Regions from separate parts of the Homo sapiens genome. Here regions 1 and 2 are each linked to region 3. Evidence: fine-mapped expression QTL. A gene starts in region 3. Each other region holds a variant in brackets. All regions are shown on one strand. Distances are between the middles of the regions.

What was found. PIP is the estimated chance that this variant, and not a neighbour inherited with it, causes the effect.
Region 1: its variant is the best candidate, but not a certain one, in a credible set for the expression of ATG16L1 in caudate (GTEx, PIP 0.51).
Region 2: its variant is the best candidate, but not a certain one, in a credible set for the expression of ATG16L1 in monocytes after LPS (Fairfax 2014, PIP 0.72).

The regions. Positions count from the first base shown.
Region 1 is chr2:233,784,317-233,795,060 of GRCh38, reverse strand. It overlaps MROH2A (maestro heat like repeat family member 2A), which reads right to left. Exons shown (of 42, transcript NM_001394639.1): 4 at 5,433-5,564; 5 at 5,047-5,209; 6 at 2,167-2,265; 7 at 1,237-1,388; 8 at 555-698. Among named protein-coding and RNA genes, the nearest start is that of MROH2A, 11 kb to the right of the region's middle. The variant C/T (reference allele first, on the strand shown) is at 4,731.
Region 2 is chr2:233,288,634-233,293,633 of GRCh38, reverse strand. ATG16L1 (autophagy related 16 like 1) reads right to left here. Exons shown (of 18, transcript NM_030803.7): 13 at 3,660-3,780; 14 at 3,281-3,386; 15 at 1,357-1,506; 16 at 1,200-1,247; 17 at 277-378. It also overlaps SCARNA6. Among named protein-coding and RNA genes, the nearest start is that of SAG, 17 kb to the left of the region's middle. RefSeq lists an enhancer at 4,449-4,950. The variant C/T (reference allele first, on the strand shown) is at 2,819.
Region 3 is chr2:233,243,154-233,253,739 of GRCh38, reverse strand. ATG16L1 (autophagy related 16 like 1) reads right to left here and starts at 2,067. Exons shown (of 18, transcript NM_030803.7): 1 at 1,798-2,067. The coding sequence starts at 1,912. RefSeq lists enhancers at 1,780-2,479, 5,260-6,459.

The sequences.
Region 1 (10,744 bases), 540 kb before region 3:
CCTGGATTTTGGGTAGGTGTCCTTGTAAGAAGAGGACACAGAGGGACACACAGGGAAAGGCCACGCAATGAGGAAGGGAGAAATTGGAGTGATGCTGCCACAGTCACAGAACATGTGGGGCCACCAGAAGCTGGAAGAGGCAAGAGAGCTTGCTTCCTTAGAGCCTTCAGAAGGAGCACAGCCCTGCCGACACCCTGAGTTTGGACTCCTGACCTCCAGGACGTACAGAGAATACATCTCTGTTGCTTCAAGCTACGCATGTGTGGTTCTTTGTTACAGCAACCCTAACAAACTAATGCAAAGGCCACAGCCTCACTGCAGCCTCCGAGGGACCAGCACCTGGTCCCTTCCACCCGGAAGGGCAGTGTTCATTCCCATGAGTCCCACGGGTGCCAGGCTCCACGCCCCTCCCTCGCAGGGCACAGATGTCGGGTTCCTGACACAGTGTCAAAATATCTGACATCCCCCCGGCTCCCACTCATCCCCTTTAAACACTTGGGAGCCCCCAATTCCCTAAGCCTCCTGCCCAGAGCCGTGGCTGCCTGGCCACTCGCCTGCGTGACGAAGAGCACCTCCAGACTGCCCTGGTACTCCGCCAGCAGCAGGGGGATGTAGTCGTAGACCTGCTCCCGCAGGTCATCGTTGGGCAGAAGGAGGCCGAGCATGGGCTTCAGGGACTTGATCACCCCCAGCTTCACCTGCCACCAGAAACCAGCTCTGGGACGCATTGTCTCACCACCCTCCAGCAAGGCCAGTGACCTCAGCCCCAGCCACAGAATCCAAGGACACAGGACAGAAGGCGCCTCAGAAGCAGAGCAAGGTCTTTCCTGCACAGGCGGCCGGGTTTGAGTCCCTCCCACTTAGCAGCCACATGACCTTGAGCAGGTACTTAACCCCTCTGTGCCTGAGTTTCCTCATTTGTCAACTAGTCCTATATCACAGAGTGGGTGTGAAAATAGCTCCCATGGGTAAGACGCTGGTAGAGTGCCCAGCATGTAACAAGTGCTCTCAGGATTATCACCAACCTTCATCAAGCCTGGCCTCGTGGATGAGGCTCCTAGGTCCCAGCTGTTCAGCATCCATGAGTTCCCCGGCTCTGCCATGAGTCAGGTCACTGCCCTCTAGGGTCCTGGGAGTAAGTGTGGACCCGACGGTCCCTCAGCACCTCCCGGCCCCACAGGCTGGGGAGCTGTGGCCTGGGGACCACCAGGCCCTCCTAAGAGGGGTGCATCTCACCTCGGGGTTGTAGTGCCTCAGCCACACTGTCACGAAGTAGCGATACATGGGGAACACCTTCAGGGCAAACTCCTCCTCAGTCATCACGGGGTACACGCTCTCCTCCAGGTGCTTCAGATAAAACTGCACCGTCTCACAGAAGGTCTCCATGGCTACCAACAGCAACAGGGGAATGCACTTGGCGCCAGAGGGGCTGGAAGCAGAACCAAGCCTTCCCAGCCCAGCTTCCCGAGTGGAAGTGCTCATGCCTTGCCGTAGCGAGCAGGCTGCACCCTGCCCTTCCAACCCCCCACAGCACCTTCATTTTTACTCTGCGTGCCTGTGTGTGTGAGAACTGAGCACTCGGGGGTGTCTGGGTCCCTCTCCTTCAAGGACAGAGACGGGGTCAAGGGCGAGGCCTGGAGTATGACCCTGCCCACATCCTGGGGATTCCAGGTCAGAGGGCAGTGAACAGTGAACACATGTGGCCCTCTTTTTCTCAGGCACTAGGGCTTTTTATAAGCCCACAAGAACATTAAGTAATCAAAATCTGGGGCAAGGTGATCAGATTGAAATAGCATCTAAGACCAGTCCCCGTCAAGCTCCACATGGAGCCGTTTTCCCCGGTCTCCCTCTCCTGTGAATGCTCATTGCTGTTCTGTGGTCTCATGAACTGAAGTGCTTAATTACAAAGCAAGCTAAATGGAGTCACCGTTGCAGCTTCTTCCCTCTAAGCCGGGATCTTCTAAAAGGCCCCCACCATGTCTCAGCCTCTTGTGCCCCAGGCAGCCAATCAGAGGCCACACGAAGTAAAAGATTAAGCAAACTCCTTTGGAGAACAAGTGAACAGTGCACCTCTTTTTCAACAACCCCTCCATCTGCTCCTTACCCAGCAGTCTCCCTCCGGCGCCCTGATCGAGCCAGACCTGCAGGCTCAAGTGGGACACTCACCACTGCAGATCGCCTGGCGTATCTTGGCTTCATTGGCAAGTCTCAGCATGGTGAATATGGTAGCCAGGGTGATGCCCATGTATGGCATGAACTCAAACACTGTGAGGTTGTGAGGGATGATTACAGGAAGTTGGGGCTGGGGGTGAGCAGAGAGAAGGCAGAGAGGACAACCCTGCTGCCCTCCACCTCCAACCCCTAACAGTCCAGAGCTGGCTTAGCCCTCTGTCCTGGCTGGGGCCCAGGAAATAGTCCAGGAGTCAGAAAAGCATTAAAAAGTGAGCTAGAAGGGCACGGTGTCTCACGCCTGTAATCCCAGCACTTTGGGAGGCCAAGGTGGGCGGATCACGAGGTCAGGAGATCGAGGTCATCCTGGCTAACACGGTTGAAACCCCGTCTCTACTAAAAATACAAAAAATTGGCCGGGCGTGTTGGCAGGCGCCTGTAGTCTCAACCACTCGGGAGGCAGAGGCAGGAGAATGGCGTGAACCCGGGAGGCGGAGCTTGCAGTGAGCCGAGATCGCGCCACTGCACTCCAGCCTGGGCGACAGAGCATGACTCCATCTCAAAAAAAAAAAAAAAGTGAGCTAGAAGCAGGTGACACAGGAAGAAAGCCAGGCAAAAGGGGAGGAAAGGGAAGAAGAGAGAGGACCAGGAGAAGGAAGAGGAGGTCCGAGAGAGGGAGGGAAGAGAGGACAGAGGAGCCCCAGGGAAGGAGGGGCAAGAAGCAGAAAGAAGCAGCCCCCAGAGTGCGTCCATCCTCCCGGACACAGGCCAGCCTCCTTCAGGGGTCCCACAAACGTTCTTGGGCGAACACAGAAGCAGGGAGACAGCAGGTGAGAGCAAGGAACTGAGAGAAGGCACGAGGCCAGCAGAGAAAAAGAGCAGACGGATGAAGGAAGGGAGCCGTAACAGGCCACCCTGCAACAGGAGGCAGGCCCCTCCACTTCACCCACCCTGAGTGCACCCCCATCTTCAGACTTCATAATAATCCCCCTCGCTGCTGTCCCTTGTCCTCTTTCCAGGCCTGCCTTCCCTTCCTCCCCTCCCACTCCATCCAGGCCTTTATCCCCAGCAAGCCGTGAAGCTCTTCCACCTCCCGCCTTCTCCAGCCTTATCTCACTGGACCCCTTGGCAGGATGGGCATCACGGGGGCCTGCACCCCTTGAGATTGTTCTCCCTGTGCCAGGCCTCACATTCCACGCTGTCTCTTACGACTCCTCCCGAGCCTTGCCAATGCCAGGACCCCTCCGGGCTGGGTCCTCTCTCTACTTTCACTCCCGGATATCAATGGCTTTGAACATCACCTGCACTCTGAGGTCACCAAGAACCAAAGCCAAGCCCAGACCTGCCCTCTGAACTCCGCGCCACAAATCAACTGCCCCCTTCACCTCTCCCCTGGGGGCTCCCACAGGCAACATGAGCTCCACACACAGCATGAAGTTCTTCACTTGAGCTCCCAACTCTCAGTGCTTCTAGCTCGGGAAAGGAGGCCAACACGCTCCCAGTGGCTTGCTACCTCTGCTCCTTCCCCCGTCCTCAGCAGGTCCCGTCTCAGAGCCCCTTCCCACCTGTCACCCCTCACCACATGCTTCCCAGCCCAGCCACCATCACAAGTACCCACCTCCTAGTACTCTCCATCCAGGCAGCAGTCAGAAAGGCCTTCCCACAACCTGCATTCACCAGGCGACCCTGCAGCTTAATGTCCTTCGATAGCTTCCTAGTGCCCGAGGTGACGTCCCCAAGGCCCTGCCTGACGCTCCCCCTCATCTCTCTCTCACTCCTTAACTCCAGCCACAGCCACTTCTCAACTCTTCAGAGATTCCAAGCTCTTCTCTGCCCCAGAGCCTCTGCAATGTTCTCTCCGTGTGGAATGCTCTCCCGGTCCTATGCTTCACACAGACATCCTCCTCTCTGCCTTCAGGTCTTAGCTGAAATATCGCTACCTCAACAAGGGCTGCAGAGATGAGGTCCCCTCCCTTAGCCAGATCTCAAACGCCCATTTGGCTGCTCTCTTCATACCCGTCACCTCCTGTTATAAACGTCTATTTCCTTGTTTGCCTGTTGGTCCTTTCTGAGCACCGGAGCCATGTGTGTCTTATGTATTGTAGTGGCCAGGTACCTGCCACAAGGCCTGCATGGAGTAGGAGCTCAGCGCATGCTTCTGGGATGAAAGGAAGGGAGGGAGGATGGAGAAGGAAGGAAGGAAGGAAGGAAGGAAGGGAGGGAGGGAGGGAGGGGAGGGGAGGGGAGGGGAGGGGAGGGGAGGGGAGGGGAGGGGAGGGAGGGAGGGGAGGTGAGGGAAAGGGGAGGGGAGGGAGGAAGGAAGGAAGGAAGGAGAAAAAGAAAGGGGGAGGGAGGGGAAAGAGTAAGTAAGGCAGGCAATTAAAAAGGAAAGGAAGGAAGGAGGGAGGGAGGAAGGAAGGAGGGAGGGAGGAAGGAAGGGGGGGAGGGAGGAAGGAAGGAGAGAAGAAAAGGGGAGGAAGGAAGGGTGGGATGGAGGAAGGGAGGAAGGGAGGGAAGAAGGAGAAAAAGGGGGAGGGAGAGGAAGGAGTAAGTAAGGCAGG[C/T]AATAAAAAAGGAAACGAAAGAGGAAGGAAGGAAGGAAGGAAGGAAATTAAAAAAGAAAGAGAGATGGAAAGACAGAACAATGCAGGTGGAGGGGAGCAGGAGAGAGGGGGAAGAAGGATGAGAGACAGAACACACAGAATCTTAACAGCTAAGAGACAAAAGGACTGCAGACACAAAATGAATCAATTTTAGAGGGAAAAAGAGAGAAATGAAAGGTAAGAGGAAGAGGTGAACATAGGGATAGATGGGAGGGGCAGAGAGAGGCAGAGACCAGAAGGGCACACTGGGCCCGGCTGAGGGCCCTCAAGCCCCTACCATTGCCGTTGGCCAGCTTGGCCAGTGTGATGATGACAAATTCATCAGTGAGGTTGAGGGGCTTGAGGTGGTGCTGCAGCTCGTACATGACCAAGCTGAAGTGGTTTCGGGACAGAGCCACCAGTGTGTCGCTGGCCACCTCTGCCTTCATATAGCCCTCCATCTGCAGGAGACAGAAGAGGGACATATGGCACCACCACCAGCCGGGCCTCCAGGAAAACCTTCCTACCCCAGGCTCTCTCCACCCCTCCTGGTTCCCTTGGGCTCAGCCTTACCCCTGCTCTGAGAGGTAACTGCACAGGGCTGTGGGCATCCTGGGCCAGGCCCCCCGTGGCCCAGCTCCTGGGCTGGCAGAGGGAAGGCACCGATGGAGCTTGGGGTCCTACCTCTGGGATCTCCCTCATCTCCTTGGAGGCAATGGCCACCAGCCTCTGCACGCACTGCTCCTCCAGCTCCCCCTCCTGCTGGATGATGTCCTGGAGGATGTTGTAAATGTTGACCTTGCGCTGGGTGGAAATCTGGGAAACAAGTATGGTGGGTGGAATGGACCTCACCCTGCCCCCAGCACAAGTCCACCTCTCTCTCCCACTGTCCTCCTTCCCTACACCCAAACCACCAGCCTCCAAACACACAAATCTTAGATCCCCATTCCTCCATTTCTAAATCCTCCTGCTTCGCTTCTCCTGCCCTTCTCATCCCACTGGCCCTGTCAATATGACTTGCGTATCTGTATTCCTGCCCGATTTCAGTAAATATCTGGCAAGGCAGGTGTTAAGTGATCAACACACAAGGTTCTCTATGCATGGGGCATTGGCCATCTTGAAAGCCCAAAGAAGGCAGGCTCACCTTGCCTTTGCCCTATTGAGGGAGTCTGTGGGCCCAGGAAAATTGCCTCTTACTCTCTTCCAATTCCTGCATGATAGCGCTTATCACCACTGAAAATGACCTGGTTTAGGATGGGATTGGGCAGATAGATTGCACATCCCAGATCACACCTGGAGGGTCGTATTTGAGAATACTTTTAATCAGGCATGACAAGTTACTCTTTTTTTTTTTTTTTTTTTTTTTTTTTTTTTGAGACGGAGTCTCGCTCTGCCGCCCGGGCTGGAGTGCAGTGGCGCGATTTCGCCTCACTGCAAGCTCTGCCTCCCGGGTTCACGCCATTCTCCTGCCTCAGCCTCCCGAGTAGCTGGGACTACAGGCGCCCGCCACCACGCCCGGCTAATTTTTTTTGTATTTTTAGTAGAGACGGGGTTTCACCGTGTTAGCCAAGATGGTCTCCATCTCCTGACCTCGTGATCTGCCGGCCTCGGCCTCCCAAAGTGCTGGGATTACAGGCGTGAGCCACCACGCCCGGCTGACAAGCCACTCTTAAGGAATGAGGGTTACTTTCTAGGTGGAGCCACTGCCTGCAAAGCCCTCAGGAAAAAATGTCCTTCCTCCTCTGGTGGTAGGGAGGTCACTCCCAACAGTCCAGAATCCTTAGCAAATTTGGGGACCTTAAGAAGAGAGGAATTCACCCAAATGTGTAAGTTCTACTGGTGAAATCCAGTACAGGGAGTCTTGGTCTTGGTTTCCTACTTTTGGGATAGCAAATAATAGGGATTTGTAAAACTCCAATCAGAAATCCCTATGACAGCTCCCAGAAATTAATGATGTGGCCTTAGTAGCTGCTCAGTGCTGTGTGGCTCAAGACCAGTGTTTCTCAATCTTTATTATTATTATTATTATTATTATTATTATTATTATTACTCCCAAGGACATTTAGACTTTTTTCCTAATCACACCCCAACGAGACTTTAATGCCATATATATGTATATGTGTGTGTATATATATAATATATGTATATGTATATATAAAATATATATTATATATATATAAAATATATATGTATATATAATATATATGTATATATAATATATGTATATATAATATATATGTATATATATAATATATGTATATATAATATATATGTATATATATAATATATGTATATATAATATATATGTATATATATAATATATGTATATATAATATATATGTATATATAATATATGTATATATAATATATATGTATATATAATATATATGTATATATATAATATATATGTATATATAATATATATGTATATATAATATATATGTATATATAATATATATGTATATATAATATATATGTATATATAATATATATTATATATAATATATATAATATATATTATATATGATATATATAATATATATGTATATATGATATATATAATATATATAATATATATGTATATATGATATATATAATATATATGTTTATATGATATATATAATATATATGTATATATAATATATATAATATATATGTATATATGATATATATAATATATATAATATATATGTATATATGATATATATAATATATAATATATATATGTATATATGATATATATAATATATATGTATATATAATATATATGTATATATGATATATGTAATATATATGTATATATAATATATATGTATATGTATATATATTATATATGTATATGTGTATATATATATAATATATATGTATATGTATATACATATGTGTGTGTGTGTGTGTGTGTGTGTTATACATATCCATGCTTTATAATGAAAAAGTAAAATTTTCTTTGTCCCCCAAGAACTAGTTTTACTTAACTGGGGGGCAATATCACCCCATTGAGAATGCAAGCTCTAGATTTTCACAGTAAACTCAAGGAGGCCAATATGCTTAATTAACACTCTTACTGCACCCTGTACAAATAGCCAGGCAAATTATAAGAAGATCAGCCTTTTTTGTGATCAAGAATAATCTTCGGAGAATATTTATAGTCACAAGAGAAAAACTGTCAAAGACTTGGAAATAACAAAAGCGATCACTGAGTGGCCTTCCAGAGCAGAGCTTGGTTCTGTCTGGCAGATGCTGTGGAATTACTGGATTCTGTAGAGTGTGCATCTGTGATTGCCAAGGCTACTTTACATCTCTGTAGGGAAAAAAGTTAAATCCTAGAAAACTGATAACAATGCACGTGTTTCCTACATAGGAATGAAAATGATTCCTGTTCATGGCAGTGCAAATGGATTTTGTCTGGTAAAGCACAGGTAAAATTCTCATTTGAACAGCTTTTAACATCTTACTAGTTCCTTAACTAGTTAAGGAGAAAATAAAATCTTTGATGCATGTTAATTTTAAAATGTGCCTATTTGTTTATTGTCTGTTTATTGCCACTGATGACTGATTAAGACCTGTGTGTTAATCATGGTTTCTTATTTTCTTCATTTCCTGATGCTTTGGCACCTGGGTCCTTGCTGACCCTAGAGAGACTACTCCTCCCAGAGCTAGCCAGTTCCTAGAGATAGTAACAAGTTGTCCATCAGCATGCTTTTTAAGTACAAAACAACTGTTACAGATTGAATAATGTACCCTAAAAATTCCTATGTTGAAGCCCTAACCCCCAGTGGGATAGTATTTGGAGATGAGCCCTTCGAAAGGTAATTAGGGTTGAATGAAGTCACAAGGGTGGGACCCTAATCTCATGGGATTGGTGCCCTTATAAAAGAAGCAGAAGACACAAGAGTGCTTTCTCCCACTGTGCGCATGCACAGGAGAGCCACGTGAGGACACAGTGAGAGGGCAGTCACACAAGAAAGCCAGCAAGGAAGCAAGGCTTTACAGAAACCAAATTTGCTGGCACCTTGTATTAGTCTGTTCTCGCATTGCTAATGCAAACATACCTGAGACTGGGTAATTTATAAAGAAAAAGAGGTTTAATGGACTCATAGTTCCACGTGGTTGGGAGGCTTCACAATCATGGTAGGAGACAAAGGGGGAACACAGTCATGTTCTACATGGCAGCAAGCAAGAGAGAATGAGAGCCAAGAGAAAGGGGAAACCCCTTATAAAACCATCAGATCTCGTGAGACTTATTCACTACTATGAGAACAGTATGAGGGAAACCACCCCATGATTCAATTATCTCCCAATTGTTCCGTCCCACAACATGTGGGAATTATGGGAGCTATAATTCAAGGTGAGATTTGGGTGGGGACACAGCCAAACCATATCGCACCTCAATCAGGGACTTCCAGCTTCCAGAATTGTGAGAAAATAAATTTCTGTTTTCTAAGCCACCCATACTATAGTACTCCATTAGGGCATCCTGAACACAGTATTCCAACCAACACAGAGCCCCTCTCCCAATCACCTCCTTTATTGGGCTCTCACACTCTGGGCCACTATCCACCTGTCCTAATCACACAGGGGAGGTATCAAACAGCCAGGGACAGCTACTTTGCCCCAGAGTCCACTGAGAATATTCAAATTAGCTAATTCTAAGCCTTCTTACCCTACCTCACCAGTTTCTTTCTACAGAAACCACAATAAAGCCTGTTGCCTATAATTTCCCCTGACTCCCTCTGCCTCCTCACAGACCCTAGTGCTTCCCCTGTGTGACCCTGCATGGCATGGTTGGCCCCCTCTCTTGGGAATGTAACAAACTGTCTTTTCTCCTTTTTTTTTTTTTTTTTTGAGACAAAGTCTCGCTCTGTCACCCAGGCTAGAGTACAGTGGTGCAAAATGGCTCACTGCAGCCTTGACTCAAAAATGCTGGGCTCAAACAATGCTCCCATCTCGGCCTGCCAAGTAGCTGGGACTACAGACAGGTGCCACCATACCCAATTAATTAATTTTTTTAGAGATGTGGTCTTGCTATGTTACCCAGGCTGGTCTTGCACTCCTGGCATGAGCCACCATACCCAGCCAATAAACTGTCCTTTCAAGAGCAAGTGTCTCCTGAGCTGTTGGTCTCATCATAGCTGAATAAAAACAAAGCCTACATTTTTTTTTTTTTGAGATGGAGTCTCGCTCTTTCATCCAGGCTGGAGTGCAGTGGCACGATCTCAGCTCACTGCAACCTCCACCTCCCGGGTTCAAGCAATTCTCTTGCCTCAGCCTCCCGGGTAGCTGGGATTACAGGCGTGCACCACCACGCCTGGCTAATTTTTGTATTTTTAGCAGAGATGGGGTTTTACCACATTGGTCAGGCTGCTCTCGAACTCCTGACCTCGTGATCCGCCCGCCTTGGCTCCCAAAGTGCTCCCAAAGTGGCATGAGCCACTGCGCCTGGCCTACATTTTTTAAAAGCCCGTGTTAGTCTGTTCTTGCATTGCTATAAAGGAATACCTGAGGCTAGATAATTTATAAAGAAAAGTGGTTTATTTTGGTTCATGGTTCTGCAGACCACACAGCAAGTATGCTGCCGGCCTCTGCTTCTAGTAAGGCCTACCCATGGTGGAAGGCAAAAGGGGAGCCAGTGCATCATGTGATGAGGGAGAAGGCGAGACAGAGGAGGCGCCAGGCTCCTTTAAACAGCCAGCTCTCATGTGAACTCATTACCACAGGGAGGGCACCAAGACATTCATGAGGGATCTTCCCCCATGACCCGAACACCTCCCTCCAGGCCTCACCTCCAACTCTGAGGTCACATTTCAACGTCATTAGTTTCTCATCAGCACATGGAATATTCTCCAGAATATACCATATTTTGGGCCACAAAACAAGTCTCAACAAATTCATAAAACTATAAATCACATTATTTTTTCTGACCACAATGGAATAAAACTAGAAATCAACCACAAAAAAACTTTGGAAAATACACAAACACATAGAAATTATGTAAT
Region 2 (5,000 bases), 43 kb before region 3:
CGTGGACATAACCAAAGAGTCAGGGATGTGTTTCTATAACCCTTTCTCCAGCGGCTGCCACTCTAACCGCTCTACCTGGCGTACTCTGTAGACTGTGGCCTGCTGTGCTGTGTGAGTGGCCCCAGCTTCTCTCCACTGACCTAGCTCAGCCAGCCGAGCAGGTGGGCGGACAGTGCCCTCACAGCGCCGACTGAGGTCTAAACCGGATGACCCCTGAGATGAAGTCAAAGGCCTTGCTCACAACGCAACGGGGGGCTGAGACAGGGTTCATCTTACCTGTGCTGCTTTGAAAGAACCTTTTCCACTTTCCCTGTGAGCACACTCCAGATATACAGAGAGCCCTCAGCAGAGCCTGCCGCCACGTAACTGCCATCAGGGCTACAGAAGACAGTAAGAAAAGAAAGGTTGTCAATTCCCCACCCCCAATTCAGCATCTCTGTGGCCTTTTTCCCAAGAAGGAATGTTTGTTCTTCACTGATGACCACTCCTGTGTACCCAGACCTCAGAATGTGTGCTAGTCATGGCCCTTCCAGCCAAATCTGCTTTTCCCCAGTATTTCAGCCCCGTCCGGCTAATGAACAGTGGCATCACATTGCTTCTTGGGGCTCCAAGTCCTTAACCATCTACAGACTTCAACAAAACAACATATAGGGAGATCAAAGCCAACCTCCACATAGCTAAGGGTTTCAGCCCATGGACTGCCTTGTTACATGCCTCAAAGAGAGGAGGGAAGAAAAGAAACATCTTAGCAACTGAGCCTGGAAAGGTATTTGGAAGAAGCAGGATACATGGAAGAAGGGAACAAGGAGCAGAAAACTGCAGACCACCTGCACACCCTTCTCCAAAAAGCCTTTTCAGTCCCGCCCCAGGCCCACGGCCACTCCTGCCCTTTTCTAAAGGCTCTCCAACAGCTCTTGCGTGAATGAGTGATGAGAAGTGAACCTAATGGGCTCACCCACAACAAAGCAACCAGCCAACTGTTATTTTTTGGTACAACACGTTAGGTTCATGTAATCACAAAAGGAACACTGGAAAGGAAGAGACAATAATGGTGGCCTGCAATTATGAACTTACAGGCACACTCCTGGAAACATAGGTTGGGCACTGAACAAAATTTAGCTCTATATCCCCAGTGGGAAAATGCCCATGCAGGACTCTTTGTGATGAACCAAATTGGCGGGGGGTGGGTCACTACTAACCTGAAGACAACTCTGGTCCAGTCAGAGCCGCACTTGAACCCAGGTGCACTGAAACAAACAACAGGGCACTGTCACTGAGGGAGCTCAGGCCACGCAGCACGTTAAGAGAGCAGGGCTGGGCCTCTGGTCTTCATGCAACCAGCACATCTTCAGTTACCTGAATGTCTGCTTGATAGCATTTGTTCGGAGATCAATAACTTTTAGCAAGTCATCACGGGAGCAGCTCAGGAGCTCAGTCCTTTCTGGGTTTAAGTCCAGGGCAGTAATCTTTCCCAACAGCTCCATCTCTCGAACTATGCTCTCTGATCTAAGAGGGAGAACAGATCTGAGAAATGTAACGTAGGCCAGAACTACTTCACATCATGCCGTGGAGGAAAAAAAAGGCACTGCAATTCAACTAGCATGCAACGCTCTGCCAGCGCAGTCAATGTGTTCCCAGTCTTCTAATAACCTGTGACTGCTTTTCTTACTTTCCCATCAACAGACCCTAAGACAGTCATTCCCAGACTAGAACTCTGAAGTTGGTAAGAATTTCCTCATCCATTTTTGGAATGACAACAATCGCCCATCGGTTTCTGATCAGCATGAGCTAACTAGGGCTACTACCCAATTCGTATTATTTTCAGTGATGTGATTTCAACTTTTGGATAAAGTTGGCAAAGAAACCTGCATTAGTGGGCCTGGGCTGCCTTGTAAGTGTAACTCTAGCCTCTTGCAGGTTTTCTGCCCTATTCACTGTGGCTCTGTGGCCCTCCACCTCCAGATATGGGGCCAGGAAAGCCAGGGCAGAGCCACGGCCCTACGCACCTCCCTCTTCTTCTCTGTGCTGTGGCCCATGTCCAGGGTGGCTAACAGCCACCCTGGGCAGGGCCCTGTTGGTGACATTCATAGCCAAAGGGGGTGCTGACCTGTTCTGTGATGATTTTGTTGTAGGCTTTCAATGAAACCTTTTCCTACCTCCCACCTTAACTAAGCAAGAATTTATCTTATTGTTGCTAAATATGCAGCTTGAAGCAAGCTACTCCACTTCCTTGGGACTCAGGGTCTTCACCTGTCAAATTATGGGATGGACTAAGAGACTTCGAACATCCAACTTAACTCTCAAATTCCATCTTTCAAGTTCCAATTTCAGGTTTTAAAAGCAAACTAAAGATTATGAATAAAATGTGAAGTGGTGTCCAGGAACCATGAGCATTGTCAGGACTTTCTGGTGCCATGCTGTGTTTCAAAGCATCATCTATCACCACAGGCCCTGTACCCCCACCCTCTCTACAACCCTGCTGGGAGGCTGTCCTCATTTACTCTCCATCCTGTCTTCCCCTTCCTCCAACCTGTCAATAAGCCCTGTCCAAATTCTCCTTCAAATAGATTCTCTCCTCCACATGTTCCTCTACTGACTTGAACTTAGGTCCTTATCAACTCTATTGGTTTCCTATTCCCTAATATGCCCTCTCAAAATGCCACCAAAGTCGTCTACTAGACTCCTGCAAAGCAACCATTTCCTTGCTAAACACCCAACGACTTACAAGATCGAGTGATTTGACAATGGCTTATCAAGCCTGTGGCAACCTGATTTCAACCCCTCATAGCCCCCTCACTGGCTTCTGCCCTGTTTCCTG[C/T]TCACTTGCCATGTATCAGCCACCAGACACACACTCAAAAGTTTGAGTGGCTTTCCTGCCGTGTGAATCCTACTCACGTCTCCGGAGAAATCTGGAGAGGCATTCTTTAACACACTGGAACAAACGTAGCTGCCTCCACTTCAACACACTAGTCACTGACTTTTGCGTTCTGCCTTCCCTACTACAGTTTAAATTACCTAAAGGTAGAAAGAGTATCCTGTTTGCCTTTTCTTACCTGCCAGCTGGTGAAGGGCCTAGCACTCACTGCATGCTCAATAAATGATTGCTAAGCTCCACAGTCTACTTCATGGGAAAGAACAGCCAAGTGTTAATAAGCTAACACTATACGTGTACCGAAACTCATTTCTGCCATGTCCTGAGATCTTAAAAGCACAACCCATGTACAGAACCATTACTGTGGAGACTCTTATGTGCCTCCAGTCAGGAGCTTGGGTATCATACCGAATGTCCCAGAAACGAATTTTCTTGTCAAAATGTCCACTCATTACACATTGCTCTGTGCAGACAATATCATTGCAACTGGATCCTGCAAACACTGTCTTTATGCCTGAAAGAAATGCAAACATCATTAATCAAGCAGAGGCACCAACGTGGCTGTTTACATAATGCTGCCACCCTCTAACCACTGACTTGTCAGAGTTACTCACTTAAATGAAGCTTTAAACAAGAAAAACTATCACTATCCTCAGTGCCCCTCTAAACATGAAGCCAGATCTGAAATTCAAACTATATTACATAAATGCAGGCTCTGACGTGCAAACACACACCTCCACGCTAACATCTAAGCATATACACAGACAGAGAGACTGAATTTCCTCACAGACTTTGCTGCGTAGATCCCAGAGTTTGAGAGTCCGGTCGTGACTTCCTGAGACAATCCGCGCATTGTCCAGCAGGAACTTAGCAGACAGCACTTTCCCACTGTGTCCCGTGAGTGTGTGCTAGGAGAGAGAACACAGCCAGGGTGAGCCTCAGGGCGCCAGGCCCTGCCTATGCTGGCAAAGTATCCACAGCATCCTTACCTCCAGAGTCAGAGTGTCAGACCACCCTGAGATCCGGCCAGGAACACTCAAAGCGATAAGACAGCAAAGGAAAAAGAAACAGGTCAGGCACAGTGACTCACGCCTGCAATCCCAGCACACTGGGAGGCCAAGGTGTGAGGACTGCTTGAGCCCAGGAGTTCAAGAACAGCTTGGGCAACACAGTGAAACCCCCATCTCTACAAAAAAATTTTTTTAAAAATTTGCAGGGAGTGGTGGCATGCGCCTGGGGTCCCAGCTACTTGGGAAGCTGAGGCAAGAGGATTGCTTGAGCCTGGGAGGTTGAGGTTGCAGTGAACTATGATAGTGCCATTGTACTCCACCTGAGTGATAGCAAGATCCTGTCACACACACACACACACACACACACACACACATCCCAAACAGGACAAGAAGCAACAATTTCATTCACTGAGTCTTATCCAGGGGCCATGTATCTCATAGGAAGCCTATCTTTGAGTGTTGGCCAAAGGTGAGGTATCAAGACCAAAAGGATAAAACTCCCACTAAAAATAACATTAAAAACAAAAATTCAACATCACTAGCACCAAGCTTCACGTGCTCCCCATCCTCAATCTTGAATTTGAAATCAGCTCTACCACAGATACCTGCTGTACTGTTTTTGTAATTTTTCTATGTCTGAATTATATCAAATTAAAGAATTTTTAAAGCCTCGATGTTGCGCCATGCTGCTGAAAGTCAGTTCCATATTTAAAGTCAGACTAGACAAGGTCACCACAGGCATAATTTACAAAAGGAAACATCAGGACTCCTTATGTAAACAATTAAAACCCCTGGGGGATTTTCAATCAGAGGTCTCAGCTTGAACAAGGCAGATCATAGCCACAGATACCAGCACTCCCAACAATCAAATCCCTTTGTGACTAAGCTGTTGGATGCCAACCAGTGTCTTCCCTGAGCTCACGGAGGAACACAGAATGAGGGACATCACGGAGTGTCAGCTGCCCTTCTGCCCATCGCAGCACTTCTGAAGTGCGATGGAGGAGAGGCAGCTGGGGATAACTGGGATGCCGGGAGGGGATCTGAGGACTCAGACCTTTTACCATTCATCATTGACCTCTATGCAGTGCATGATCAACATTTTTCTATGTGTAAAACAC
Region 3 (10,586 bases):
GTGCAGTGAAAGCAAAGAACCATTTGCTGGGGGAGCCAGTGAGAAAAGCAAATGCAAAAGTTAGTCATCAAGCCTAAGTTCAAATTCCAGTCCCGGCTGGTCACTGTGGCTCATGCCTGTAATCCTAGCACTTTGGGTGGCTGAGGCAGGTACATCACCTGAGGTCAGAAGTTCAAGATCCGCCTGGCCAACATGGTGAAACCCTGTCTCTACTAAAAATACAAAAATTAGCTGGGCGTGGCGGTGCTTGCCTATAGTTCCAGCTACTAGGGAGGCTGAGGCAGGAGGATCTCTTGAACCTGGGAGGTGGAGGTTGCAGTGAGCTGAGATCACGCCACTTGCACTCCAGCCTAGGTGACAGAGCAAGACTCTGTCTCCAAAAAAAAAAAAAAAAAAAAACAAAAAAACCCAGTCTCACCATTAACCTGCTGTGCAACCTCAGAAGTTACCTAATCTCTCTTGGCCTCAGTTCCATGTGTGAAAATGGCAATAACAGTTCCTGCTTCATACACAGAATTTTGGGAAAGATAAAATAACACATGCAAATACTTACCACAGTACTAAAATTTGTCTGCACAGTAGTCATTTGGGAAGCATCAAAAAACACTGATAACTTGGCATGCAGTTCTAGGCTTAATCTCACACAAACACAAACACACACACACTGATACTTGTGTACTGTGATACTTGTGATTTAGTTGGTCTGGGGTGTGGCTTGGGATTTGTAATTTTTTAAAGATCCATAGGTGATTCTAATGTGGAGCTAAGTTTGAGAACTACTGATTTTGCACAATCAGAATGCAATATAAGGTAGCAATTATTATTCTGAATATCATCAACAGCATAACTTGAGAAAGTCGTCAGGTTTACTTTCAGACGCAGATGGAACCACCTTAGGACCATTATAATTTAGGTAAAGGTACAAACATTTTTGTACCCTTAAGCTGCAAGCAGTAAGGGGAAAGAAAACCACCTCTTTCATACTGAAGATTTCAGTAACAGTAAAGGTTCTGTCCCGCCTAAAAGATATTACGATATTAACACCAAGGTGGGGCCGGGCTCGGTGGCTCACGCCTATAATCCCAGCACTTTGGGAGGCCGAGGTGGGAAGATCGTTTGAGCGCAGGAGTTGGAGACCAGCCTGGGAAACACAGTGAGACCTCGTTCCAAAAAATTTTTTTTTAAAAAAATTAGCCGACCGTGGTGAAGCGCGTCTGTAATCCCAGCTACTCGGGAGGCTTAGGTGGGAGGATCACTTGATCCTGGGAGTTTGAGACTGCAGTGAGCCGTGATCTCCGCCACTGCACTCCAGGCTCGGCGACACAGCAAGACCCTGATCCCCTATCCCGTTTCCCCGCAAAAAAAACCACCAAGGTGGAGTAAGGGAAGTAAGTTTGAGGAATCAAAGGCCACCCGTTCCAGTGCATTGAGAAGGCAATGTTAATTCTGCGACTGAAAGTCAACGACCGTTTCATTAACATGACCCCATAGATGGGATGTTTCTGGGACCTATTTAAGTGCATAAGCATTGTATGAGCTACTGGGATTTACAAATACAAACACGAACTGTGCCTCCCCACAAAGATCGTACAATTTAATAGGGAAAATCCTCCAAAGATAAAACGCAGGTTAGAAAAAACATTTAAAAGGCGTGCGGCGTCCCAAGCGCGGGTTACCCGGGGCGGCCGCCATGCGTGCGGGCGGCGCCAGGGACTCGGCCTCAGGTTCCCGCTGACGCCCCGCATGCCTCCGCGGGGCCCGCCCGCCCCACTCCCAGCCCGCACCGGCGCCGCTCACACTGCAGGATGATCTCCTCGAACGCCTGTCTCTGCAGCCGGTCCCGGCGCCTCAGTTGCTCCGAGATGTGGCGCTTCCAGCGGGGGAAGTCAGCGGCGCGGAGGCCCGACGACATGTCACTTGCTGCCCCGGCACCTCAGCGCCACCAATGCGAGCGAGGGCTGACGGCCGCAGCCTGCAGCATGAAGCAACCAGCAGAAGCGGGAATGCCGGCAATCCCGGAGCTCACCTCCACACACTGGCAGTCCCCGAGGCCATCCGGGACGGTCTTCCGGCTCATGCCGGAAATGATTTTCGAGAGGGCCGGAAGACCCGCCCCCTCACCCGAAGCACGGGCTCAGGAGCCGGTGCCTACGCAGGGCGCTCGCTAGTGACGCCAGCCTGTAGCCGGAAGCGTCAGCTGCAGAGAGGTGGCCGCTTGGGGGCGTCCGGGCCCTGCGCAAGGCCCAGCGCCGGGCGGGAAGGAGGCAGGAAAGGGGCCGTTTCCGCCTGACTGCTTACTTTTCTTTTGCTGCTTTTCAACCCTTTTCGTGTTTTTTTTCTTGGCCTGTCTCCCCCCACTTTTATTTTTAATCGCAGTTTAGGAACAAATGGGGTTCCCTCCATAGTAGCTCTGTGGCTGTGGATGAGTGACAGCCTACCTAAGCCTCAGTTGTCTCATCTGTAAATGGGGACAGTAATGATACCTACCTCAGAAGGTTGTCACGAATAGTAAAAAGAAAAACCCATGTAATGCAGTCAGCACTGTGCTTGGTACAGGGGAAACCTAAGTTTACAAAGACACCTGGTGTCTTCCCAAGGCCTACCCTGACAGCAGGAGCATTGCCATCTTGGACAACTGCCACCATTTTAAGTTCCCCTTGATTAAGAAACTGCCTAAATCCAACCCAAAAACATCAGCCTAATGGCTAATGTCAGCATAACCAGAAACATTCCAACCCTAAGATAAACCCACTTCCAACCAGAAACATGCCAACCCAGAGATAGCCTCCCCTCCGGCCAGAGACTTTCCAACCCTGCAATAAACTTTCCCTCATACAGAAACATTACGAACCTGCAATAAGCTCACCGCTTCGTAAACCCTTAAACACCCTTAGTGTGTAAGAGAAAACGCTCCTGACCAAAATCGACAAGAAGCCCCTCTCAGGTTTATTCTCCAAAATAAACCTGTCTTTGATTGTTAAGCTGCTTTTCGTGTTTCTTTCTTGTTTCTTAACTCTTACATACCTGAAGTCAGGGTGCGTTGGGAAGAGTGTCCCACTGAACTTGGAAACAGGTTTTGTGGTTTGTTTGGGGTTTTTGTTTTTGTTTGCAATGGAGAAGAGAACTGGAAACGGGAGCTAAGAAAGATGTGAATTGTGTATCAGAGTTTGTCTTCATTGTTAGAATCCTAGAAATTGTGGCCTGACAATAAATGGAGCCTTAGAAGGTAATCTGAGGCTGTAGATGTTGAAAGGGGGAGATGAAGACACACTGGCTCCTGAGAAAGTTGTGTCTGTGAACAAGCTCAGTAGAATGGAAAACCCAGTTCTGTAATAGAGTTGCTGGAGCTCCATCTGCCTTTAACAATTAGTGAATTTACTGCATGAAAATGGAGCCAGACAAAGTAGTTGGCCAAAAGAGGAAAGGAATATCAGAAACTACCTTCTCTTCCAGTGTGTCTCAAGTCCAGAGGAAGGTCCTTCAGAGACAGATAAGAAGAACTTAGGCTGAGGAGAGGAGGACAGTCAGGCTTCTAGCACTGTAGTTGAAGATGGTTCACTGGTAGTCAGTATTGAGTGGACCTGAAGTCGTTGGAAGGATCCAATGGGATCAGAAATAGAAGTGACTTCCTCACACGCTGAAGAAAATGAAAAAGTTCTGAAAGTGACCGAGAATGCCTTCAAATGCAGCAGTGGCACCACCCTTAAAAGACCATTACACCAAATCTTGACAGTTGAGCATGTTAATTTCCCACATTTATGATTAAAATATGTTTCCAAGGTTGGGCATGGTGGCTCACACCTGTAATCCCAACACTTTGGGAGGCCAAGGTGAGAGGATCACTTGAGCTCAGGAATTTGAGACCAACCAGCCTGGGCAACATGACACAACCTGTCTCTACAACAATACAAAAAATTAGTTGAGTGTGGTGGCGTGTGCCTGTAATCCTAGCTACTGGGATGGGGCTGAGGTGGGAGCATCGCTCGAGCCTAGGAGGTCAAGGCTGCAGTGAGCTGTGATAGCACCACTGTGTTCCAGCAGCCTGGTCAACAGAGCAAGACCCTGACTCTCTCTCTATATATATAAAAATATGTTTACAAATTTGCAGTTTGCCTAACCAGCAATTCCACTTGCAGGAATTTATGCCAAGAAATATTTGGACACATGTCCACATACAAAAATCTTTGTTGCAGAATTGTTTTTAGGTTGGTGTAAAAGTAATTGCGGTTTATAATAATGATGAGAAGTTGGAGAAAAAAATCTACATTTCCAACAATAAGAGATTGGTTAAATTACTGTACATTTATTGCTGGAAATTGTTGATAGTAACAGCAGTATATGTCATAATTTATGTAAAATGAGTATGTCCCTAGCTCATCATAGACAAATATTTGTTGAACACATGAAGAATAATTTCTAAAGAAAGAATATGAAGCTCTGCTAGTCCTGCCCTCCTCCTAACTCACCAGCTTTATCTAGCACACAACCACAGCCACGCTGAAGCCTCTTACTTCCTTCTGCTTACCGTGCTCCCTCTCGTTGCAGGGCCTTTGGATTTACTGTGTTGGGCACATCTTCCCTTCTGACTTCTCCAAATTAATTTCTGTGTGTTCGTTCTCATTTCAGTAGTCACTTCCTCGCAACAGTAGGATGAGAGACCTTCACAACCTGTTACAGATCTTATCTCCCTGTTACGCGTGTACCTCTCCTTTATAGCATTGATCCCAGTTATAGGTTCACATGTATTTGTATCATTACTTGATAAAGGTCTGTCTCCCCCAGTAGACTGTAAACTCCATGAGACAAGAGCTGTGTCTGTTTTTGCACATCATTATATCTCCAGCAAGAGCATGAAGCCCTTTATGTATTAGGTGCTCAGTAAATGTTATTTAATTAATGAATGGAATATGTGAAAATACTGATAATAGTATTATCTGTAGGCAGTGGTGTTGCTGGGTTTTTTTCTTATATGTGTATTTTATATGCATTTTCTAATAGGTAGACATTATATATATATATACTACATATGCATGAAAAAGTTGGGCCGGGCGCGGTGGCTCACACCTGTAATCCCAGCACTTTGGGAGGCTGAGGCAGGTGGATCACCTGAGGTCAGGAGTTCATGACCGGCCTGTCTAACATGGCAAAACCCCATCTCTACTAAAAATACAAAAAATTAGCTGGACGTGGTGTCAGGCGCCTGTAATCTCAGCTACTTGGGAGGCTGAGGCAGGAGAATCGCTTGAACCCGGGAGGTGGAGGTTGCAGTGAGCCGAGATTGTGCCATTGTACTCCAGCCTGGGCGACAGAGTGAGACTCTGTCTCAAAAAAAAAAAAAAGTTATAGAAATAAACACATATTTATTGATGAAACCACTTATGTCAAAGCATGGTAGACTCTGGGAGATCACAAATAAGCAGGAACACTTCTACAGTGCTACGGGCTGTGCATTCTTCTGAGTAGTATTTCACATATTATAACTCATTTCCTCCTCACAATAATCCTGCTCAGTAGCATCTTCATCCTTATTTACAGACGAGGAATCTGAGGCACAGGGAGGTTAAGTAACTTGCATGAGGATACCTGGCTAGTAAAGTGGCAAGACCTGGGTTCAAATACAGGCAATTTAATTCTAGCATCTGTGCCTTTAACCACTGCACTCCATCATCCAGTCTCTGTTCTGGCTGTCACTGCAGTATGACTGGACTAGAATACATGAAACAGAATAATTTTTAAGTAATATGTGACTCACTCCTAAATTAGCCAATAGGGAGGGCAACCTGGTGAAGAGCAAAGTCAGTGATGGGGAGGCTTCAGGTGTGTTCACAGGCCCTGAGGGGAATGACTGGCTGGAGGGTGAGTAATACAGGGGATGAGTAATAGGAAGGAGGAGGAAATAGGTTGTCTGAATACTCTGGTGACAAATAACAGATCTTGAGAGTTTTTATATTTGTTCTGGTAAATAGTGATTGTCTAAAGGATTCAGCATGCTTTGCTGGGAAGCAGCATCTGTGAAATGGAGTCTGACTGCCTATAATGGATGTAAGATAAATGTAAAATATCCCAAGATTCTTGTAGCAATATGTTAAGCCTCACGAATTTGCTCACAGGAAGTAGAAAAGGCGTCACTTATCAAAGGACTTTTTTTGTGGAAAGTCTAGTTTCACTGAACCAAAGTTCCACCAGCTTTAACATAACAGCACCTCTGTGGCAGCATTTCCACTGCTAAAAACTTCCAAGAGATTCTCACCTCCATCATTGATGCCTACACATCTCATCTGTGAGATCCTCTAGTTATGCTCCAATTCAGAGGAATTCAAGGGCCAACCTTCAAACTATTGTCCTATTTACTCTTTTCTCTGCCCTTTGGGTCTTCCTGATTTCCTTTACCTTCCACTCAGCAGGTTAAAAAAACAGTGCAATTCCAGTGTGGGTTGGGCATAGGGATGGGCATCCTGACTTCAAAGAATTCACTCTAGGAAGGGAGATTGGAACACGTATCAGTTATGGGTGCAAGGAACATAAAGTACAAAGAGCCGGCCTGATGGCAGTACCAAAGGGATTCAATTATCTTCTGTTGGTTTTTCTCTAGCTTTTATTCTTAAAATCTCATTTCCTATTATTCTTTTAAAAAATTATCTTAGTCTTTCTTTATTTCCACTCCTTTTCAGCTCTTCCCAAAATTATATTACTCAAAGTGAAAATAAACTAAGTTAACTGTGTTACTGTGTTAACTGCTGTATAAACCCGATAGCTGCTAGAGTAAACCAAAGGATAGTCAAGAAACCAACTAACACAGGTTTCCAGACACACCACTGAGCCTTCCAAACCTTATTTATTTATTTATTTATTTATTTTTATTTTTTGAGATAAGGTCTCACTCTGTCACCCAGGCTGGAGTGCAGTGGCATCATCTTGGCTCACTGCAACCTTCGTCTCCTGGGTTCAAGCAATTCTCATGCCTCAGCCTCCCGAGTAGCCGGGATTACAGGCATCTGCCACCATGCCCAGCTAATTTTTTGTATTTTCAGTAGAGACAGGGTTTCACTATGTTGGCCAGGCTGGTCTCGAACTCCTGACCTCAAGGGACCCGCCCATCTCGGCCTCCCAAAGTGCTGGGATTACAGGCGTGAACCACTGTGCCGGGTCCAAACCTCATTTCTTAATATGATAATAACAATGCCCCCTTATAGGCATATGTTACTTGGCTCTTTTGCTCCTTGTTTTTCTTTGTTTTTTTTTTTAGGGTCGTTGCTTTTGTGTATACACATATATGCACACGGCAGGAAATTTTCATTATAAAGAATCTCTGTGTACATAGATTAAACCACATGCAGGTCATGTCCTTCACTCCGTATATATGTTGACACTCAGATTTCATATTATTTTATTTCATTTTTTGAGACAGGGTCTTGATCTGTCACCCAGGCTGGAGTGCAGTGGCGCGATCACGGCTCACTGCAGCCTCAAACTCTCAGGCTCAAGCGATCCTCCCACCTCAGCCTCTCAAATAGCTGGGACTAATTTTTGTTTTGTTTTGTTTTGTTTTTTTGTAGAGACCGGGTCTTACTAAGTTGCCCAGGCTGGCCTCAAACTCCTGGGCTCAAGTAATCCTCCTGCCTCAGCTTCCCAAAGTGCTAGGATTACAGGCATGAGCCACCTTGCCTGGCAGATTTCATATTATTTATTTATTTTTTATTTTGTTATTTTTTTAGATGGAGTCTTAGTCTGTTGCCCAGACTGGAGTGCAGTGACTCGATCTCAGCTCACTGCAACCCTCTGCCTCCCAGGTTCAAGCAATTCTCCTGCCTCAGCCTCCTGAGTAGCTGGGACTACAGGTGCCTGCCACCAGGCCTGGCTAATTTTTGTATTTTTAGTAGAAACGGGGTTTTACCATGTTGGCCAGGCTGGTCTAGAACTCCTGGCCTCAAGTGATCCACCCGCCTCGGCCTCCCAAAGTGCTGGAATTACAGGTGTGAGCCACCATGCCTGGCCAAATTTCATACTTTTAAAATGATGTCTGAGGAAGTGTTATTATCCTTATACTACAGTACAAGCATTTTAGTAACATTTCAACTTTCTTGGAGATCTTTATCTCCTCTGCATATTGGCAGCCGGTGTCTGGAATGCCGGCCAGAGGATTCAACATGACACCTCTAGCAAGCTGGGAATGTGATCCGTGGTGGAGGTGGGGAGGCTATCTTCCTTGGTTTGTTTCTTTGATCTTTAAAGAGATGATAAAATTTCTCCTAGGCACTACTGCAATCTCCCACTACAAATAATAGTTAATGTTATGGAGTGATTTTTACATGTCAGGCACTGTGTTACGTGGATCAACTTATTTAATTCTCACAACACGATAATGTAGGTATATTAATATTTCCTTTTTGGAGATGAAGAAATAGACATATAGAAGTTAAATAACTTGGCCAGGCATGGTGGCTCATGCCTGTAATCCCAGCATTTTGGGAGGGTGAGGCGGGCAGATCACCTGAGGTCAGGAGTTCAAGACCAGCCTGGCCAACGTGGTGAAACCCCGTCTCTACTAATAATACAAAAAAATTAGCCGGGCATGATAGCAGACGCCTGTAATCCCAGCTACTCAGGAGGCTGAGGCAGGAGAATCACTTGAACCTGGGAGGCAAAGTTTGCAGTGAGTCAAGATTGTGTCATTGCACTCCAGCCTGGGAGACAAGAGTGAAATTCCATCCAAAAAAAAAAAGTAACTTGTCTGGTGTCACAAGTTAGGAAGAAGCAGAGCAACGTGTCTGGTGTCACAAGTTAGGAAGAAGCAGAACTAAGATACAGTCAAGGAAGCCTGGTGCCAGAACTCACCTGCTTCACCATGCTACTGGCTGTGTGTCAGGCTATGAGGGCTGAGACTGTTTTAGGTTGAGATTGTGTATCAGTTAGAATGTTTTTGATAGCAAGCAAAAGAAGTGCAATATGAGCTACCTTAAGGGAAAAAGGGGGGTTATTGTCTGGATTCAGTGTGCTGCAGAGACTGGCAGCAGAGATGTGGCTGGATCCCAGGAATCACTGCAACCAGGATGCAGATCAGCCAGCGTGCTCAGCCCTTTGCATCCGCTTCTCCATGGCTTGCTGCTTCCTTCTTCTCTTGTCTTGTGGCCCAGCCATTTGTGTTTCGCGGTTCTCCCATCCTCGAGGTAAAGAAATAGCTCCTCTGAAAGCTCCTCAGTACACACAAGCAGCCAAACAGAGCTGGCGCCTCTGAGCTCCAGTTCTCAATTCCTGGGAGAAGACTCTGATGGACCAGCAGGTGCCCGTATCTAAGAATCCTTGTGGCAAAGGGGCAGGCCAGTCTTCCAGGACAGCTTCCTTTGGATGGAGGGGAAGGGGCAGCTCCCAGAAGGGACAGGCAGAACACATCTTCTGTTTGGCCTGGCTAGCTCGCTCTTTCTTTCTCTCTCTTTCTCAATCTCCCTCTCCCTCCCTCCCTCCCCGCTCCTTCCTTCCTTCCTTCTTTCTCTTTCTTTCTTTTCTTTTCTTTTTTTTTTTTTTTTTGAGACAGAGTCTCGCTCTGTTGCCCAGGCTGTCGCCAGTGCGGTGGTGAGATCTTGGCTCACTGCAGCCTCCACCTCCCGGGTTCAAGCGATTCTTATGCCTCGGCCTTCTGAGTAGCTGGAATTACTGGCATGCGTGCCACCTGACTGGCTAATTTTGGTATTTTTAGTGGAGACAAGGTTTCACCATGTTGGCCAGACTGGTTTCAAACTCCTAACCTAAAGTGATCCACCCGCCTTGGCCTCCCAAAGTGCTAGGATTACAGGCATGAGCCACCGGGCCCAGCCTTCCACCTTTCTTTTGGTAACAGATTATACCCTCCTGCTAGTTAATGGTATTTCTCCATCCCTTCCTGCAACAAATTGGCCCCAGGGGTAGGCATAGGAACGCTTCTCAGTCACCATCCTCCACAGGAATTTTTAAAGTGGATCCAGGGGAGAGGGTCCCTTTTCTTCTTTGGTTGTGAAGTCTAAGGATCTAGATCTAGATCTGCTAGTGGCTGTGTCCCCTGTCTCATGAAAAGGCCAGTCTGAAAACAATGGAACAATCCTACAGAGAGAAGTAGAGATGAGAAGCCAGGAGCCCTGATGGAGTTAGAGTCCCTGGTTCCAGCCAGTCCTGCAACTAGCCCAGCCCTATTCTCCCCACCAGGACTTGAGCCAACACAGTCCCGCAGGTCACTTAAGCTAGTTTACACTGAGCTATTATCTTCACTCGCCACCCAAGACTAATACAAGCAGGCAAGCCTAAGAAAAGACCAGGGCTGCGCAGACAAAATGACAGTCACTAAGTCAAGCTTTTCCACTTTAAGATATTGACAAGGGGGAGTCAACCGGCTGCTCTGCCCTCCATGCAGTTTTTGTGTTTACCAGCAATCCATGTCCAAGCTTCTTGGGAAAAGTTTCTGGATCTGAGATCTCATGAACTTCTGAGTAAGTTAAGCTCTGCTCTAAATAATAGTATCTGCAGGTGGGAGAAATTTCGAATTAAAAAAATCATAACCCCCAAAAAAATCATAGCCCCCCCCCAAAAAATCATAACTCCAAAATTACAATTAGAAA